Regions from separate parts of the Homo sapiens genome. Here regions 2, 3 and 4 are each linked to region 1. The links come from fine-mapping of genetic effects on gene expression. A gene starts in region 1. Each other region holds a variant in brackets. All regions are shown on one strand. Distances are between the middles of the regions.

Region 1 (5,000 bases):
GCCTCAGCCTCCCAAGTAGCTGGGACTACAGACGCACGCCACCATGTCTGGCTAATTTTTTGTATGTTTAGTAGAAATGGGGGGTTTTACCATGTTGCCCAGGCTGGTCTCGAACTCCTGAGCTCAAGCAATCCACCCACCTCAGCCTCCCAAAGTGATGGTATTACAGGTGTGAGCCACCATGCCTGGCCTGCAAGTTACCTCTTGATTTAAAATATTTTCCAATCATGAAGGAAATTGACTTGATTCTGCTACTTCCCTCCACCTCTGACTTTGGGGGTAGGGGACAGATAAGCAGAAACTGCTGAACATGACCCTCAGCCGGCTGGGCAGCCATCCCTCAGCCACAGTGAGCTTGATTTGCGTGTTCCAGTAGGAAGCAAGGAGTCAGGTCCTTCTCTAGTCCTGGGGAACAGGAGAAGGGTGGGGGAACCCCTGATTCCTCCCCTTCTGTAGCCAAAGCAGACTAGTTTAGGGAGGAGACAGGGAAACCACCAGAGCAGGTCAAGATCAACCTGAAGGAAGTGGGAGTCAGGGACAACCTACTAAAGGAAGTGCATGTGTGCCTTGTACATGCATGGGGTGGACCAAGGAAAAGATTTACCCTAAAAGAACAAAGTATGCTCCGACAAATCTATTGAAAGGAATGATTTACACTGGTGCTTCCTGCCCAAATGTTGAGACCAATGGCCTGGTGCTTCCTTCTTGAAACTAGGTTGCTCTACTTACATGAAACAAACTGGGCAGAGGTCAACCGTGAGAGCCTGAGCCTCCCCAAGTAAACAGCAAAAGATTCCCCAGGCCCAACAGCCCCCACCCCCACCTTCAAGGAAAGTGGATCTACCCGGAGCACGTAGGCCAGAGGAGGCAGGAGAAGAGGGTCAGTCCGTGAGCTCCGGGTACCTGGAGAACATGAATCTCCCGGGTGTACTGTCCCCATGAGGGTCACCGAGGAACCTATGGATCTTCCACTCTTCGCCCAGAATGTCTTCCCTCTATCCCCTCCACCTCCCCAAATTCCAGCACCAGGGGCCACCTCAGAGCCACAAATCCTGAAAGGACCACCCAGGTGACTCGGGCCCACACACCCCTCTTTCGGGGTACACTTGGTGGCAGGCTAGCAGGCTTTTGGCCTCAGCTGGTGGTGCCATATAACCAGATTCGTCACAGAGACCCATTTTTTATCAGTCCCAGGCCAGAAGTACGAAGACTGATCTTAACGATGTGGCCTGCCTGGGAGGTAAGGCGGCAGGCGTTGCCAGAATTGATGGGAACTGTGGCACAGGTGGGAAACCTGGTTTAACAAATTCTTCATTGATTCAGGGGACCACTTTCCTTGAGCCAAGTCTTGGCAAGCGGCCGGCGAAACTCACAGGTCCCTTTCCTGGCTGCGTCCCCAGCCTCCAGCCTTCCCCGCCCCAGAGATGCCCCAGGAGCGGCCCCTCGGTGTAGGTAACGGGTGCCCGGGCGGCTCCGCTCCGCCGCCTAGAGCCTGGAAGCCGCCACTGCGGCCCAGGACAATCCGGCTACGCGGCCGGCGCCGACCCCGCACGCTGGAGTCCGCTGCCGCACGGCGCTGGCAGTCGGGGGTGGTGTCTGAAGTCAGGCGCTTCCTGCCTTTTCGTCGGCCCGGGTGCCCGGCTCGCGCCGCCAGGCTCTGGGATCCCAGGTCGCCCCGCCCAGCAGCCCGCGCCCTGCTCGGTGCGCTCAGCGTCCCCGCCCCTTACCCCAAACCCCCACCCTCTGTGCCCTCAGGGGGGCACCCCCATCGGGGCGGGAGGGGGGGGTCAGCTGTGCCCCGGTCGCCGAGTGGCGAGGAGGTGACGGTAGCCGCCTTCCTATTTCCGCCCGGCGGGCAGCGCTGCGGGGCGAGTGCCAGCAGAGAGGCGCTCGGTCCTCCCTCCGCCCTCCCGCGCCGGGGGCAGGCCCTGCCTAGTCTGCGTCTTTTTCCCCCGCACCGCGGCGCCGCTCCGCCACTCGGGCACCGCAGGTAGGGCAGGAGGCTGGAGAGCCTGCTGCCCGCCCGCCCGTAAAATGGTCCCCTCGGCTGGACAGCTCGCCCTGTTCGCTCTGGGTACGTACGCCGGCTGCGGCGCCCCCTGCGCCGCGCGACACCCTGCTTCCCCCGGTCCCCGCCGAGTTCCCCTTTCCGGGGGTTTCTGCGCCCGCCTGGGAGAGTGGAGAGAAGCGAGTAGTCTCAATGGGTTGGCGCCTGGGAGGCAAGGGGAGTCATTAAGAATGACAAAGAGGGGACTGTCCGGTCGAGCGCCGAGGCTTCCCCGGGAAAGTGGCTGCCTGGGCCGTGCGTGAGAACACCTGGGAAGGGGAAGCGGAGTGTGAACGGGCTTGAACTTTAATCCGCCGCAGCTGTGTGTCTGCTCAGACACATGCCTACACCTACCTGCTTACCTGGCTGCCTCCAAGCCCGGCTCAGCCGGCGTCGCTGGCGTGTAGACTGGGCCGCCTCGGAACGGGGGCCGGCGTCTAACCCTCTGGCCGGGTCTTGCCTGCGCCCCTTTGGCACCCCCTGCCCACCTCTAAGCCCCAGCGACGAGCAGAGATGTTCAAGATCGGCAGAGGCGCCCTCGATCTCTTTTCAGAGCTCTTGAGCTTTGGGGGTAGGTTTTGGATTTTTGGGCGGATTAATGGTTCCTTTAATTAACTTCCCTGGGAGAAGTGGTTTCGGTGTCCGCCGAGGGCAGGAGCGAAACCCTAGACCGAGTGTTGCCAGTTTCCTTTGAGTATGTCCTTGGAAATGAAGGAGGGATGGGAAAGGTGAGGGGAAGTTAAACCCCTCTCCCGGGTCGGGTCTGCGGAGCGGTGCGTTTTTTGGCGGTGAAGTTCAAGGGTCTGTCTGGACGCGGTGAGGGCGCAGCGCCGCGCGCCTCCTGGCCAATTCTTGCCCCTTGTGCTGGTGGGTCTCTCTGGTGTTGAGATAGCTGATCAATAGCGCAGGTGTCCTGGTTATTGCTAGTCTTCCGTGAAGTGAATTGTTCGTTCGATATGCCCCGAGTTTAACCCGTATAGCATGCGGCTCGCTGCAGGGTGGTTAGAGTCTGTGGAAAGCCATGGAACTCCTCCCCAGAAATGCCCAGAGCCGCAGCCTCACCCAGCTCCGTGTACAACTACAGGGGGTTCGCGGCCCCGCCTGCAAGCCTGCCCTAGAAACGCTGATTAAAAACCGCAGCAGAAGGGGAGGCATCCTGTAAGAGAAATACAAGGCAGTCTTGGAACCGGATGCTCCCAGCTACACCCTTACCTGAAACTCACCAGCAGGTAACATGGGTATGGGAGGCTTTTCCCCCACATTTTTGAAGAATTGCCTTTTTTGTGTGCATGTATTGACTGTTGCTCTGATTTAAATTTTAGAAAAAGCAATAAAACATTACCAATACAAGGGAAGCTTCCTGGATATAATTATCCCTTGTAATGTTTTTGCAAATAATAGTAGTAAGTAGTAGTAGTAATAACAGCTGATGCTATTCGAGCATTTTACTCTGTGTCAGACACAGTCCAAGTGCTTTACATTTATTCATGCAGTTTTCACACCAACCGGATAAAGAAGGTGTTAATATTATTCTCATTATATAGCAGAGGAAAGTAAAGCACACAGGGTCCACAGTAAGTAACTGGACCAGGATTGTCGAAGAACGTGGAAGGAATGTGAATATGAAAAGTCACCTAACTTGTGGTCATTATAGTCCCATCTCTCTTTTGGGACTTTGCCTTAAAGAGAGATTATGTGGAATACCCTGGAACTTGTTGTTAAATTGAGTTTCCTATTGAATTCCTGGGATCTCAAGGTGGTTATTCGGTAAAAATTAGAGGCAGGAAATGATGAAGATAAGCACATTTGAGTAAGTGTTTGAAAGCTGTCCCTACACCCCACACTCCCATCCCAGAATTCTCGCCCACAAAGACTGCATTCATTCATCATGTAATTTTTCTCTTTTGCCTGAATGTTCTTTTCAGCTTGATCTTTGTTTCCTTCTTTAAGAAAATGATGTATAAACTTTAAAAGATTGATCAATATGTAAAAACTTGCTCACACAGTTCCAAAATGTGAGCAGTTGAAAAAAGTGGAGAAAAAAAAAAGGCAGGAGTAATTTACACCAGTGAGGACTCCTTTTTATTTATATGTCTTTAAAAGAAAAATCACAGCTGTGAGTTCTGTGCGTTTACTAGAACTGCTGCCTCCCACATATAGCTTTACTTTGCACATTTCCTTCAAAGCTGCTTTCCCCTCTGATTTTTCTTAAATAGTTGAAGGCAGTTCCAGGAGAATCAACCAGTGTTCCATCGCTACCCGAGATCTAGGAAACCTCCGTGGGGCTAGTCTGAGAAGGAACTGGCTGTTAGGAGTCTCGGTTAATGTTTGATTACTTGGAACCTGAGCATTGATTAATGTTTTCAGTAAGAGAATGTGAAGACTGTTGCCCAAATGGCAACACTGGAAACATAACCCAGGTTCCTGTGGTGGCTGCCCTCCCATGTCAGGTTTCCATCACTGGCAGGCAGACCGCACGGGGGCTTGGCATTTCCAGTTACATTTCCTCCTCTGTGTTCACGGAGCAAGATGTGTGATCTTGGGCAAGTTACTTAGCTTTTCTATGCCTTGTTTTTCTCACCTGCAAAATGGGGATATTAATAGGGTTGTTGAATATATTTAATGTATGCAGAAGGGTGCCTGGTATGTAGTAAGATCTTAATCTTATCATCATCATCATTGTTGTTGTTACTTTGGGCCCCATAGAATTCCAGACATCATTGCAGGTTATGTGAGTTGTATAACTGGGAGAGTTTGTAGGTTTTCGTTTATCTCATCTCCATGCTCTTTACCATTCCTTCGAAAAATATCACCCAACCTAAAAACCTACCTAGGTAATTTCTGGTGAATATGATTTGGCCAATGACAAATTCAAGCAAATCTGGAGGGTTTTTTTGTTTTGTTTTCTTTTGTTTTTTTGGTTTTTTGTTTTTTGAGACGGAGTCTCGCTCTG
Region 2 (5,000 bases), 55 kb after region 1:
ACTCATTTAGCCACAAGAATTCTCCAAAAGTACATTTTGCCATTAAGACTACAAGTTAACTTTTTTTTTTTTAAACTCTGCTTAAGTAGTATCACTTTGTGAGTGAATGTAGCCCCTGAACCAGGATGTTGTTTGGGGAGAGAGCTTTGATGATACCAATATTTTAAAATATCAGTGTATTTTTATTGGTGTTCAAAGGCTGATACTATTAAAAATCTGGACCAGAGAGGATTCTCAGTTAATATTTTTGTTTTTAAGTAAAAGAGTTCCTGATGCCCAGGCCACTTGCATGTGGTACCTCCTTGAAGAGGATATCCCGAGAAGCCTCTGGCAGCTCTGTCTAGAACTGCATCGTCCAATATGGCAGCCACATGCAGCTGTGGAGTGCTTGACACATGGCTAGTTCCAATGGAGATGTGTTGAAAATAGATACCATATACCATATAGTGAAGACTTAGTACATTAAAACTGAATATCTTATCGATAAATGTTTGTATTGCTTGTTTATTGAAGTAACACTATTTTGACCTTATTTGGTTAAATTAAATACATTATTCAAATCAATTTCACCTTTTTATCCTAAAGGTGGCTACTAGAATATATAGAATTACTTATGCGGCTTATGTTTATTTCACAGTTTTAGAACCTTGCGACACATTTGTTTTCACTCACATCCTTTCCTTCAATCCTGGGTTTCTCCCTAAACGCCAGCCCCAGGGTCATCCTTCCTCAGTCTCACCCCAATATTGTGCTGCAGCCAGCTGTTGAGTGCTTTCTCATGTCCCTGTACTTGTGAAAATGCTCTGCATACGGATGAACCCCTAGTGCAATGTCTGACACAATAGATACAAAATAAAAGTTGAGTAAATAAGTGAATACTAGCTCTCTGTAGCTCACCTATTTCTTTATAAAGAAACGAAGTACAGAAAGTTAATATGGCATCGAGGTTACTTCTAAAAGTGTGGACCATAGGCTGTTGGCATAAGAATCACCCAGAACGCTTGTAAAAATTAAGATTTACTCCAGACTAAAAGGTTCAGTCAGGAGATGTTAGGTTATGCTGCAGTGACAAAATTTCACTGGCTTAACAGCAGGTTTAACTCTCGGTCACTCTGTGTCCACTGCGGGCCCTGGGATACTCCCCAGGAAAACTGATAGTTCAGGTTAGACCTCCATATCAGCAAGTGGGATCCATCAGCAAGCTGGGTACTCCCGCCTAGTTATGCGTTACTTGTCAGTGCTCACATTTCATTCTCTGAAACAACTCATATGGCCATACCTAGCTCCAAGGAGACCGGGAAGGCCTCTATATACCTAGAAATAGAGGTGAGTGTACACTGGTAAGCAATGGGAATGTCTGCTTCATAGGCCAAATGCAAATCTCAGAGGTAGGGCCTGGGGATCTGCATTTTTAACTCCCCTAGTGATTCATATTCACTGTAAGTTTGAGGACCATTGAGTAGAACTAGAGTTCTCAACTATGGCTGCACGTTAGAATTACCTGGGGAGTTTTAAAAACACTAGTGTCCTGGCCCCACCCCAGAGATTCTAATTTACAGGGCCTGGGGATGGCATCCAGGCATCAGTAATTTTTAAAACCTCCCCCAGAGATTCTAGTATGCAGCCAGGGTTGAAAACCACAAGTGTAGGGGAAAAAGAGGGAAGGACTCTTGAATCCTGACTCTAACACAGACCGAATCTGGTTTTGCATGTCTGTTGAAGGCAGTAAAGATCAAATGAATGTGAAAGCATTTGTCAACTATAATATAGAACAAATACTGGCCATTATACACTGGCAGGTGTGGACTTTTATGCAAACTAGATCTGTGCAAGCTGTCATATATGTATGACATGATCTCACTGCCACACACAAAACCAGGAGAGGAGGGGCAGCATCCACCACACCTTTGCACCTGCCACCTTTTACAGTCAGTAAATGGGTGGTCCCTTCTACCTCCCCTCCCCTCCACTTAACTTGATGATAAAGGGGATAAAGAGAAGAAAAAACTCATTCCTTGTCTTGATTTTTTTCTCTCCAGCCTGTTCCAAAACCCTTAGCCCAAGCCCC[G/A]TTGCCCTTACTCTCTGTTAATCTGAAACTGGTGCCTCAAACCTCTGGTCCTCTGCAACCTCATCTCCTCCTCTTCCTGCAGCCTATTTCCCACCTGCCACCCTAGTCCCATGCCAGGAAAGGCAGGGCCCTGGGGGAGCCCCAAGCCTGCTGGCTGATGGTTTGAACAGCATAAGGAATCCATATTCTCAGAAAATTTGTGCCCAACATTGTCCCTGGTGGTATTGTTAAGAATGGCAGATTTAGCAGCACTCTGTTTAAGAGGTGAGGTATGCAATAGGTAAGACCAGCTTTTATGAGCTGCTCCAGCTCTTTCACCCACTTTTTGTAATATTCTGTTTCCTGTGGATTCTGAGATCTCACCAAATGATTTACAAACAAGCTCTTGGAATGCTACTGTTATGTAAACTGGAAATTGTACCAACAGTCAGTTTTCTTTGGTTATAAAAATACCACATTGGCTTTCTTCCATTGGCAGAGCTAAGAGTTAATGCTGGAATAAGCTGTTTTTAGTTATTTTTCCTCTTGTATCTAACAATTTTCAAGGCAGAACAATGCAAGAGTACCTCAAGTAAATAACTGTAACACCTTTTGTGAAAATACAGATTTGCGCATTTGATATGAATTAGCTTTAAAAAATGATGGAAAGAATTGCTTAGCCTGGATAGCTGTGACATAGGTTCTGTAAAATGATTCTTACTGGTCAGGCTGACATGGCCAAGGTTCTTGGCAGTGGAAGTTTTATGTCAAGCAGCAGATCACAGGCCACCACTGTCTTTTCAAAACCTGGAGGCCACTTTCTCTTATCCTACCCACCAGCCTGGCCCTCCTTTCTACAGCTGGTTCTTAATCAGAAGTTAGCAGGGCTGGGATGCAATGTGCCCAAAGGAGAAGATGCTCAAGGACCTCAGCTCCTTGTAGGCAGTGACCACTGGTGCAGGCTTTTCTTATTTCAGTGCCTCCCATATAGTAGGTGAAGAAAGTGCTTTTCATTATTTTGTGCATGGGGTTAGGTCTGGTTGTGGACCTTGGAGATTCACTGAATTGAACAGAAATGCTTAGCAATCTTAAAATGAGCCTCCTAAGTTAAGATCTATGTCATATACTTTGTTGCAAAGAAAATAGTTAAAAATGTGTGTAAGCTTCTGGTTTAAATGGCAAACCCAATACTGCATCTCTCATATCAACAGCTACAAGAACATACATAGTAACATACTCTCAGAGTAAAGTCCAAGCTCTCCATTGCCCTGCAGAGCTCTGCCGGGTGCAACACCCATTCCCACTCCATCTGTAGCTCATACGTCTTTCTTCCTTACTTTCTATGCTCCGGTTCCCTGGTCTCCTTTCTTTTTCCCAGATGTATCATGTCCTTCTCTAACTTCTAGGCTTTGCACTTGCTCCTCCTTCTGCCTGGAATGCTCTTTCCCCAGTTTTTCCAGTGGCTGACTCATTCATGTCCTTCGGGTCTCAGATGTGCTTCACCATTTCAGAGAAGTTTTCCCTGCATGGTGATTCTGGCAGTAGCTCTTCATCACATCTCTGTGCATTTCCTTAGTAGCACCCAGTGCTGTCTATAATGATTTCGTTTGTTTATTTACTTATTTGCCTGCCTCCCCCATTAGACTTAAGTTCCTTGAGGGCAGGGACCTTGTCTGTCTAGTTAATTAATGGATCCCCAGTACCCAGCACAGTGCATGACGCATACAAGACACTTGATATTTTGTTGAGTGAGTAAATGAATGAAGGAAGTAAAGAAGGAAGGAACACTATGCACCATACCAAGTGCTTTATATCACCCATTTTGCCTTTATAACATTCCCTATTGATTCATGGGGAAACTGAGCCCCAGAGAGTTTCAGTGACTTGCCCAAGGTCAGAATTAGTAAGTCACAAAGAGCCAATATTTGCTCTCAGGTTTGTCTGCCTATAAAGGTTTGTGCCAGAGTCAGGTCTGAGGTTATGGTTCAATATTAAGTTTTTGCCTCTTTCTGTATCTTCATAGGTATAATAGCATGAAGTATTCTGTTTTTTTTTCCCTGTGGCTCAAAATTTTTTGTCCATGGCCTTTGAAATAGGTCCTTTTCTGCTATTTTCTGCAAAAGAACTTGGTGGTAACAAGAAAGGGTTCTGGTAGAAGCATATTTTGGAGGGAGCTGTGGAGATCTGCCTTGAGTGTGAAGATTACGAATGACTCTTATTTGAGAAGCAATATGTGTCTTAAAGTCTCATTTTTAAAAAACAATAAAAATAATTTATGGCAGCAACTGGAAAGCAGTGTCCAAGCTTCAGATAACAGTGATACTGCTCTGGTAACACCACCTCCTTCCCCCAGTCTCGGGGCCTTCAGGTTCACACATGTGGGTATGGCAGCAGCTTTGCAGTATTCAGCTGAGATCTCCACGGCAGCCAGGCTCCTCAGTGCTCAGGAGCCTCTGGTTGGAAAAGAGATAAATCACTATTTCTACAAATTATATGAGTATATATCAAGGAAGCACGCACAAACTGCCACAAATGCCTATTAGAAATCTTAAAAGTAGCCAGTAGGGTGCAAGTAAGAAAACAGTCAGTAGTTTTCCTATAAACCATCAATAACCAATTAAAAATATACTGAGCAGGAGGGGAAAATGGGGAATTATTATACTATTCAAACGGTAGAATGTTCCAGTTATGCAAGATGAAAAACTTTATTGATCTGCTGTACAACATTGTGCTTATAGTTAATGATATTATACACTTAAAAGAATCTCCCTCAAATAACAATAATCATAGTAACAATAAAAAATATACTGGAGAGAATCACCTTCAAAATAGTTGTAAAATATAGACTATAGACCAAGTAGAAATAATCTTTAAAAGATGTGTCAGAATCTGTTTGAAGAATACCATAAAATTTCCTTTTAAGGTAATTTATTTGACTAATAGAGAGACCTGT
Region 3 (5,000 bases), 82 kb after region 1:
TCCCTGCTCACCAAGTCTCTCTGGGCAGCCACTGGGTTCTAGACCATTTACTTCTCTAAGCTCTGGCTTAGCAGTTCTGCCACCCGAGTGTAAGCCTCCGCACCAGCCTCTCCTTCACTCCATAGCTGCTTTTGCAGGTTCACGCATCACCTCCCAAGCTTGGAGTTCCACCCTTGTAAACTGGGCCTGCTGCTGCCCTGAAGCCAGCCTCCCATCCCAGAGCTGAGTCCAGAGCTTTGGGTGACTCCAGCCTGGCCTCAGGGTGGAATGGAGGCCTTGATACCTGGGAGTATCAGATTTATACCCCCCGCCAGCTTCCCCAGTAGCTACTGCTGACTCCCATCTTTACTAAATTAATCTACTGCCTTTTCTCCTAGACATCCAAAAAGTATTAGTTGGCTTTGCCATTGTAGTATCTGAAGACAAAATATTTAGTCCCAGGTCAGAAACTTTGGCTGAAAGTTCCTACTAAAAAGCCAGACGTCATGATTAAATTGTTAGAAAGTTAGCCATGATATCTGAGGAAGTTATGAAATGGCTGTAAATGATGTAAGCTCTGCAATGGGCAAACGTGTTCACAACTTTTGACATCTGGGGAAGAGAGTTAAGAGCCACAGGCTCAGCCGGCTCCCGCTGACCAGCACAGCATGAAGTCCAATTAGGGCTGCTTTTAAAGGGGGTGATTGCGCTCAGGGGTGTGGATGCTGCTCCCAGGGGAGCAGGGCTGTTGGGAGGAGCTGTCCAGATGGCTGTCTCCCTGGCTCCTCTGAACTACGGAGACCCCTCCTGTGAATTGGATGGGGGATTTCCCTGCCCCTCAATTGCTATTCCAGACCCTCTTCCTGTAAGTAGGGTTGGGCTCCAGGCCCTGTTAGTGGGTCTGTGGTCTCTAGGCAAAGCTTTCACAGCTTCCCCAGAGAGCAGTGGTGTCTGCAAGATGTGCGTTTGGTTAACATGCTGGAGGGGCCTCTCATAAATTTCATGGCAACAGGAACTGAGTGGCTTTGAAACTCCAGCTGCTGGTGGGCTCGATATGAGGTCTGTTCCAAAACCTGGAACATTTGCTTTTCCTATCGTCAGCCCCAAGTGCTACTCAGACTTGGTGTCTGGAGGAGATGGGCCAGAGTCCTGGGGGCCAGTGCCAGTCCTTCTCTGCCCTCAGCTGGCACATCTTGGGGAGACTTTCTTTGGATATTCCCTGCTGGCCTTTGCCACCTTCCTTTTCTAAGTGATTCTTTTTTTAAATTTTAAGTCTCTAGGCCTTTCCTTCCCTCACTCGCTATTTTCTTGAATTTCCAGAAAAAACAATAGAGTGGGAAAGGGAGAGTGAAGGGAGATAGAGAAAAAAATAGGGGGAGAGAGAGAAAAGCAGGAAGAAAAGAAAGAGGCAGACTCTGAGAGAGAGGCTGAGAGAATCATTCTTAGGAAAGATACCAGGAATTTGGGGGGTTCCTTGTAATGCTCATTTTTATAAAATAACTGGAGGCAGTTTTGCCCCCCAAGGAGGAGATGGTACTCTAAGTTACTGAGCAAACCCTTGCCCATTGACAAGGTTGTCTAAGCTTCAGTTTAGTTTTCTTATCTAAAAAATGGAGACTACTTAGGTTAAAGCAGGCCGCCTACCCTGCCTCGACTTGGCGGATGATGTAAGGAAAGCCCCCAGCACTTAGCAAGCACTCAATAAGTGACATCCCTGTCCCTGCCCTCCCCTACCTTCACCAAAGTGCCTCTCATAGGAATAGCCTTGTCTGCCTGGGCTGACCCTGCCCTGGTATTTGGGGTGTTCTTTGCTGAGTCTGGGAGGATCTAAGACAAACACCTTTAAAGGCCCTCAAATGAGAACAGTTACTCCGCCCTCACTTGTTGGAGATGGCTTTAGTAAAGCACATCAGCTCACGAGGCTCGTACAGCACCCTAGGGGCGCACAAGCCCCAGTGCTGCCCCTCCTGGAGCTGGCTCATCCTAAGGGTGCACAGGAAGAGCAGAGTGGTCACAGTGTGGCTTGCCCTTGGGACTGTGGTTTGACCCACTCCTCCCTGTCCACTTAGGTCTCAAGTGTGAATCACATCCCCTATCAGAAAACCTGTGACAAGCTACAAAGCTGCCAAATATGCCAGTGGAAGAGGAACCCGTTCTGCACATGGTGCACATTGAACTTCCTGGGTGGTGGGGGCAGGACAGCACCCTGCGCAAAGAACCTCGAACTTGAATTAAATGCTTGTTTTTAAGAAGTTTGGTTATATGGTGGGGGGGGTGCGGGGAGGAGAATGCACGTAACAGAATAGAAAGAGTAAGTTTAGGTGCATGTTCGTGTGCAGTGTATACTTACATGGTTCTCTCTACATAGTGGATTACAGATGGGTTTTATTCTCTAATATGGTACTTATTATATATTGATTTATTTTAATTTCCTAAAAATATGTCACTTTTGTAATGAGAAAATGTCTTGAAACTTTTGAAAAAGTTTCAAGAGTGAATGTATCATGGTTGTAGTCAGGAAAAGGGTTTTTTTTAATAAACAACCTTCTAATGATAATCCACTAGCATCAAGCTCCCTTCATCCTCTCTGCCCTTTGGGCTGAGGCAGACAGGTGGAATTATGGAGGACCAGGAACTTGCACTCTAAGCCTCAGGCTTGTTTCCACTCTGGTCTCTGAATACACAGAGCGAGACCACCACATGTCATCTGCCATCACTGTTACTGTTGCATGGAGCTTCTTCACAGCTTGGACTCTTCTGGCTTCTTAGTGAGCTGTGTGAAGTGAAAGAACTGAT[G/T]GTTTACACGGGCAGATGCTTCTTTGGGAAATTGTTCAGGATGTCATCCACCACAGCACATGAAGTCCCCTTCAAAAACACCCGCAGAAGAAGAGAAGTTGCTCTCTGACCGTTGCTCTCCAACCACAGACTTAGGGAAAGCTGAGCCTGTCCAGCTTGTGCAGAACAAGTATATATATTCCTATCTAATGAACCTTATACATCCTTGCTAAGACTGCCAGGAGGCATAGAGTTAGATTTGTCCCTCAGCTTTGGCATGTGCGTGTGATTTTCTGATATCCATCTTTGTGTATTAACCTGGTGCCTGTTTTGCTCATTGCTGCTCCTTACCCTTACTTTCCTTTGTCCCAATCTCTCCTTCCCTCTCTCACTGCCCGCCTGTCTGTTTCTTCCTGTTTCCCTCCCTCCCCTCTTCTTCTGTTCCTTCTCTCTCTTATCGCTCTCATAACCCCACCCCGTCTCTCTCTACTCTCTGTCTCCCTTCCTGTCTCCTTCCCTCCTTCTTCCTTTTTATGTCCCTCTCTCCCGTCTCTCTCCTTCTCGCTGTTTCTCCCACACACACTTGTTTCTCGTTTGCATTGCCTTTTTATGGTACCTATTTTTATAACACCACCTCATGTCATTTATAAAAAGAGGCAAAGGTATCCATCAATAGGGGTTAAATGAGACCATAGCAGAGTCCACCCTTCACCAATCAGTTTTAGAGAAGTGTTCCAAAACAGATTCCAAGTTTTCTCTTTCTTTGTATTTCTACTGACCTAATACTTTACCACGAAGAACCTCAGCAGATTTCAGGCTTTAGAGTCACACAGGAGTTTGAAGAGCTGGAAGATAATCAGCTCCAAAAAGGACCCTGGCCTTTCCACTTTTGCAAGAGCCCATTTATCCTTTGCTTCTGTGTAACACAAGCCTGCGTCTCAAACATTAGTGTGCATCAGGATCACCTGCAGGGGGCCAGACGTGGCGGCTCGCACCTATAATCTCAGCACTTTGGGAGGCCGAGGTAGGCAGATCACTTGAGCCCAGGAGTTCGAGGCCAGCCTGGGCAATGTGGTGACACTCTGTCTCTCTACTAAGATACAAAAATTAGCTGGGTGCAGTGGAATGTACCTGTTAATCCCAGCTACTCTGGAGGCTGAGGTGGGAGGATTGCTTGAGCCTAGGAGGTCAAGGCTGCAGTGAGCCATGAACGTGCCACTGCACTCCAGCCTGGATGATGAAGTGAGACCCTGTCTCAAAATAAAAATATAAATTAATTAATTAATTAATTAATTACCTGCAGGGCAAACATTACAGTATAGCAATTCTATTTCAATAGGCCTGACTTTAAAAAATCACCTAGCAAGTTTGTCCCACAGATTTCTGGGCCTCACCCCAGAGATCCTGATTCAGTAGGTCTGGGCTGGGTAGGGGTGGCAGGCAAACTCAGGGGAATGTGAAGCTGTCTGTCTGCAGATCACACTTGGAGGAACCCAGCCCAAAGCCCTGACAAAGGGACTTCCTCTAGCCACTTGGAGGTGGTGGTTTAAACGGCCTTTTGTGGAGCCTGTCAAAAGCCTTTTTGAACATGTACATCAAATGAGATCCACTAGCCCAGCAGCCCCCAACCTTTTTGACACCAGGGACCAGTTGCATGGAACACAATTTTTCCACAGACTTGGGAGAGGTGCTGGTTTCAGGATGATTCCAGCTTGTTACATTTATTGTGTACTTTATTTCTATTATTATTACATTGTAATATTTAATGAAATAATTATACAACTCACCATAATGTAGAATCGGGAGGAGCCCTGGGCTTGTTTCTCTGCAACTAGACAGTCCAATTTGGGGGTGATGGGAGACAGTGACAGATCATCAAGTATTAGATTCTCATAAGAAGTACACAGCCTAGATCCCTCACATGCACAGTTCACAATAGGTTTCCCGCTCCTATGAGAATCTAATGCCACTGCTAAACTGACAGGAGGCGGAGCTAACGTGAGCAATGGGAAGTGGCTGTAAGTACAGATGAAGTTTTGCTGCCTTGCCGGCCTGCATTGGCCTCTAGAGTCTAGCCCCTTCATCTCTCTGTGTTTGTTCCTTGACAAGTTCAGTGAGCACAGAGAAGCCAGTTATGCAAACTACAGCAGACCCTTCCTGTCTCAATTCAGCATCCAGCGTCTACTGTTAGCCAGTGACTGGGCCTGTTCCTCAACCACTCAAGCCAAGCACATGCAGGTGACTGT
Region 4 (5,000 bases), 24 kb after region 1:
TCTAAGAATTAGTTGAAGGTGTCCCCACTTATGTTGCTTATATCTCATGGCTTTTTATTTTTTTAAACGCAGTACTTGAGGCTTTAAAAGGTGTTCCATAAATCTAGTACCATAGCCATGGAGAATCACTACGGAGTCCTGTTAGACAGGATTGGCTTCCCAGCAAGGCAAAGAGCCCATGAGGGTGTGGACTGGTATGTTTGAAACCCTTCAGGACACACTGGGGTGTCTGCCTCCCCTCGAAGTAAGAGGCAAAAAAACACAGCTAATGGGACTGACCATACTCTGTGTGGACGTTCAGGTCTGTCAACTTTGGGCCCTTGTTGAGTTATCACATGAGTATTCTGTCTGGCTCTTAGTCAGAAGGAACACTGCCTTCTACCTTTTCTTAGAGGGGAGGACTCCTTTCCCTGGAGGATATAGGGTATGTCTCAGTGCTCCTGCCCGAGCAGCCAGCTCAGCATCATCACACCCACTTCAGTGGAGGTGGCTATCTCTGTTAAACTTTCTCCCACAGGTGCAGTGTGGAGATATAAAGGAAAGTGGAGACCTGGGGCCTCAGGGATTGCTGCAGAGGTGGTACATTGAGGGCATAGAAACCTAGAGGAGAGCACAGTCTTGGGCTGGGCATTTGCAGCTTGCACGTGCTCTGGTACCAGGCCAGCACCGAGCCTGTTTGCTTTGGTCCTTGTGGACCCTTCACCTCTGAGCTTGGGTTGCTGTCAGACCTGCCTGCAGGTGGTATTGCTGAGGTCTGTGCTGAGCTAGATGAGACACTGTGTGAGCTTCCAGAAAGCCTTGGGCATAGCCGTTGTCATCTGCAGGCTAATTTCTCCTGGGTATTTAATGCATGTCTTATAAGTAAACCTGGGGTTACCTTAGACAAAGGTTGTCCAACCTGTGGCCCATGGGCCGCCTGTGGCCCAGGAGGGCTTTGAATGTGGCCCAACACAAATTCATAAACTTTCTTAAAACATTACAAGATTTTTTGTGATTTTATTTTTGGCTTATCAGCTATTGTTAGTGTATTTTATGTGTGTTCTTATTCTTCTTCTTCCAATGTGGCCCAGAGAAGCCAAAAGATTGGACACCACTGCCTTAGATGGAGATCCCTGGGATCTGCCTGTGAATGACCAAGGACAAAGCCTTCATTCCAGGTGGCAGCATCCTGAAGTATTAATATTTCAGGGATGGTGGGCAGACCCTGGAAGGGAACTTGAAAGTGCTTCAGAGAAGTTTTAAACTATCCAGACCAAGATAAGATTTACTCATGTAGGTCTGACTCTCACAGGAGTTGAGCCTGCTAATGGATATCTCTAAGCCTGAGTTCCTACTTCTTCATGTTTGCTTTTTAAATTTTTTTGAGGGAGACAGAATCTCCCATCTGAGGTGGTCAGGAAAGGTTCTTGCAGACATTGGTACTTGAACTGGCCTTGGAGGTTGAACATAGCCTAGGAAGTAGAAGGAGAAGGCAGGGAATAGTATAGATAGAGGCAGAGGGAAGAATGAGGCCAAAGTATACCCCCACATTCAGTCCCTCAGGAAGTTCTGCTGGCTCTGTTTCTGTTATATTCTATGTCTGACAACTCTCATGTCCCAGTGGCCACCCCACTGTGACCTTTGCCTGAACTTCTGCAGTGATCTCACCCCATTCTTCCAGTTCCCACTTGTGCCTCCTTAAGGCCTCTTCTGTCCCCAGGACCCTGAGTGTCTCTTCTGTCACATGCATCAGATGTTATTGCTCCTCTGCTCAAAGTCTTCCAGGGGCTGCCCAGCTTGGAATAAAGTCCAGGCCCCTAGTGCTCCCCACTGGAGGCGTCTGCCCCAGCATCTCTCCAGCCTCATTTCCCGGTGTGCCCTCCCCCAGCCACAGCAGCCACCTGCTCTTTTCTAGGACTGGGGCGGGGGGATTCACTCCTCAGGACCTTTGCACGTGCTCTTCCTCCAGATATTTCCAGATCTGGCTCCCTCGTTTTATTCAGGCCTGTGTCAGATGTCATCTATTCAGAAAAGACATCCATGATGACTATTTATTTACACGCATCCGTGATGAAAAATGCTCCAGTGTCTGTGTTATTTGTTGGAGAACTGTCATCACAGAAAGGTTGGAACAGTGTCTCCTTACTCCAGATGGAAATCACCTAGATTCCACAAGGTGCTTATAAAGTGCTGCTGCTCAAATAGGAGAGTCCAAGTGTTGTCTTCTGTAGTTCATGCCCCCTGGATGTCTCTGCGGAACTGCCTGGCAGGTTTGGCTTGAAAAGAAACAATTCTTTCAGCAAGTGTTTGCTGA[T/G]AGCTTGTCTATGTGTCAGGCACTGTTCTGGGCAATGAGAATACGGTGAACCAAAAACACTCCCCTCCACCTCACACACCTGACTTGGTCCCAAGGAGACAGAAAACAAACAGACATACATACCATAAAATGTCAGGTTGTAACAGTGCTGGCAACAAAGATAAAGCCAGGGATGGGAGTGAGCTGCTTGCTACACATTTTCACCAGAGGTGGATGCTGGACAATTAAAAGCCCCCCTCGTCCCACCCAGTGCTCTCTTGTACCTTTCTCTCCTGAAGTGTAAGAAGGAACAGGGAGAGGAGGCTGGAAGAATTCTGTGTAGCTGTAGCTTCATTTTATGATAAAGGCCGTGTCTGATACCCACTTGGGAGCCCTCCCTTATATAGCTGGAGGGTCAAGAAGTTGAATTAAACTACCCTTGTAGTAACTCTTAGGTTCTGCCCTCTTGGTCACAGAGCTCACTGACAATAGATTTTTAAAAATTGTATTGATAACTTATCCCCAGCTGAGAGCCAGAGCGCCTAAGATACATCATCTTTTTTGTGGGAAACCACACAAGCAAGGCCAGTTGCACTAAAACCAGGATACTGGCTTTTCTTGGTTGTTTCAAAGGCTGCTCAGATTCCTGACTGTGTGCCTGTCAACCTTTCTACTAGATGACTTCTCTGGAAGACCCACCCGCCCCCCACATCGTTCTACCCTTCCCTCCCCACTCCCCCAACCCCTGCCTTTTCCATGCCTCTTTCCACAGGGATCATTGTTTTTCTCGGCCTCCTCTCGTCTGACATGCTCCCAGTGTGAGAGTGAGGCTTGGGGTACAGGGCAGCCCAGCCCGGCGAGATCAGCTACTGACCGAAGCTGGTCATTGCTTCTCCCTGGGAGCCACTGTGAATACATGCTACTATGACCCTGTTATTAACATGTGATATTGGTGTAGTATGTTTGTTACAATTAATGAGCAATTGTTCAAAATATATCAAAAATATTGGTATATTATTAACTAAAGTTAAGACTAGTTGACTAAAATTAGATGTTACTGAACATAGCCCTTCAACACATTTCACCATAGGTGAGAAATAAGCGTGCTTCTGCCCTCTCTGTTTTCAGCAGGGTAGAATTCATAGTGATGGCAAAGGCTGGAAGTGAGCTTTGTCTGTCTTTGCAATCAGCTGAGCCCACAGGGCAGCAGATGAGGCTGAGAGCCACAGTGCTCCGTACAAGGCTGCTCATCCACGACTAAGCAGTGTCTCCTCTGCATTTCCAGAAATGTCTGACTCAAGCTGCCCCTGCCATGGCTTCCTTAGGAGAAGGACGTTGTACTTGAACCTAGGGAAACAGTATGACTGGACAATCCAGAGTGCAGAGTAAAGTCATCCAACTTCACAGTGCTGTAACTGTCATCAGCTGGTAATAGAATACTTTTTTAGAGTAGCTTTAGATTTACAGAAAAATTGAGCAGAAAGCACAGAGAGCTTTACCCCACTGCATAGTTTCACCTGTTATTAACATCCTGCATTGGTGTGATATGTTTGTTACAATTGATGAGTCAATTTTGGTACATTATTAACTAAAGTTAATATTAGTTAACTAAAGTTAGATATAAACTAAAGTCCCTCGTTTACATTAGGGCTCACTCTTGTAGTTGTACATTCTATGTGTTTGGACAGATTTATAATGACACATACCCACCATTATAGTATTGTACAGAGTCATTTCACTGACCTAAAAATTGCCTGTGCTACACCTGTTCATCCCTTTCTCCCCTCTCCCAAGCCCCTGGCAACTACTGATCTTTTTACAATCTCTACAGTTTTGCCTTTTTCAGACTGTCATATAGTTAGAATCATACAATATACAGCCTTTTCAGACTGGCGTCTTTCATGCAGTAATATGTATTTAAGCTTTCTCTATGTGACTTGATGCTTATTTATTTTCATTGCTGTATAATATCCCATTGTATGAATGTACCACAATTTGTTTATCCATTTACCTACTGAAGAATATTTTGGTTGCTTCCAAGTTTTCACAGTTATGATTAAAGCTACTGTAAGCATCTATATGCAGATTTTTCTTTGAAGATAAGTTTTCAACTAATTTGGGTAAATACCAAGGAGCACTATTGCTGGATTGTATAAGGGTGTGTTTGATTTTGTAAGAAACTGAAAAACTGTCTTCTAAAGTGTCTGGACCACTTTATCAATTGGTTTTGACTCCTGAACCACTTTCATTTAGATGAGTCTAATTTTTCCAGAAAATACTTCAGAAATACACTAACTGTTAGTAACCTGAAACCCTTTTCTCACTGCACTCTTACATGGGACTTAAAGGTGAAATGCTGCCACCTTCATTCTTCTTTCTGTAGTCTTCCTGCTGGTCTCTGTTCTTGCTAGAACTAAACCATCCTAGCAGAAAACTTCCTCTTTTCCCTCTCCCTCCTTTTTGCTTCTCATCACCACCCTTTCCCCAGCAAAAGTTAAAGGGGAAAATGGACTAGAGCAGGGTTGGTAGGGGAGATCCCACTCCCATTTTCCCATAGCAGAGCTATTGCATTTTCTCCGGGATTTTTGTTTTCCTTTAAAATGTCTTAAATTGACACTGCTAAAAGATACATGATGCTCTCTGCCCCACAGCTCTGGGGTTGGCATGCCTTGTTCCTTACTGGTTTGTCTCGAGTCAATAAATGAGATTCTGCCCATACAACTAAGTG

Alleles and levels. Positions count from the first base shown, and alleles are read on the strand shown. Sizes are in standard deviations (SD) of each study's normalised expression.
In carriers of allele A in region 2, the expression in spinal cord of the gene that starts at base 1,976 in region 1 tends to be higher than with G alone (small effect, 0.24 SD a copy in GTEx).
As copies of T replace G in region 3, the expression in anterior cingulate cortex of the gene that starts at base 1,976 in region 1 goes up (small effect, 0.33 SD a copy in GTEx).
As copies of G replace T in region 4, the expression in left ventricle of the gene that starts at base 1,976 in region 1 goes down (small effect, 0.34 SD a copy in GTEx).

The links. PIP is the estimated chance that this variant, and not a neighbour inherited with it, causes the effect.
Region 2: its variant is the best candidate, but not a certain one, in a credible set for the expression of TGFA in spinal cord (GTEx, PIP 0.59).
Region 3: its variant is the best candidate, but not a certain one, in a credible set for the expression of TGFA in anterior cingulate cortex (GTEx, PIP 0.54).
Region 4: its variant is the best candidate, but not a certain one, in a credible set for the expression of TGFA in left ventricle (GTEx, PIP 0.86).

What each region holds. Positions count from the first base shown.
Region 1 is chr2:70,550,802-70,555,801 of GRCh38, reverse strand. It overlaps TGFA (transforming growth factor alpha), which reads left to right and starts at 1,976. Exons shown (of 6, transcript NM_003236.4): 1 at 1,976-2,074. The coding sequence starts at 2,035. It overlaps LOC124907824 (a long non-coding RNA gene), which reads right to left and starts at 3,094. Exons shown (of 2, transcript XR_007086906.1): 1 at 2,410-3,094. RefSeq lists a silencer at 1,846-1,915.
Region 2 is chr2:70,495,532-70,500,531 of GRCh38, reverse strand. All of the region lies in intron 2 of TGFA (transforming growth factor alpha), which reads left to right. Among named protein-coding and RNA genes, the nearest start is that of TGFA-IT1, 16 kb to the right of the region's middle. The variant G/A (reference allele first, on the strand shown) is at 2,069.
Region 3 is chr2:70,468,364-70,473,363 of GRCh38, reverse strand. All of the region lies in intron 2 of TGFA (transforming growth factor alpha), which reads left to right. TGFA-IT1 (TGFA intronic transcript 1) reads left to right here. Exons shown (of 3, transcript NR_046798.1): 2 at 4,869-4,992. Among named protein-coding and RNA genes, the nearest start is that of TGFA-IT1, 11 kb to the left of the region's middle. The variant G/T (reference allele first, on the strand shown) is at 2,776.
Region 4 is chr2:70,526,498-70,531,497 of GRCh38, reverse strand. The region is part of intron 1 of TGFA (transforming growth factor alpha); the gene reads left to right. Among named protein-coding and RNA genes, the nearest start is that of TGFA, 25 kb to the left of the region's middle. The variant T/G (reference allele first, on the strand shown) is at 2,294.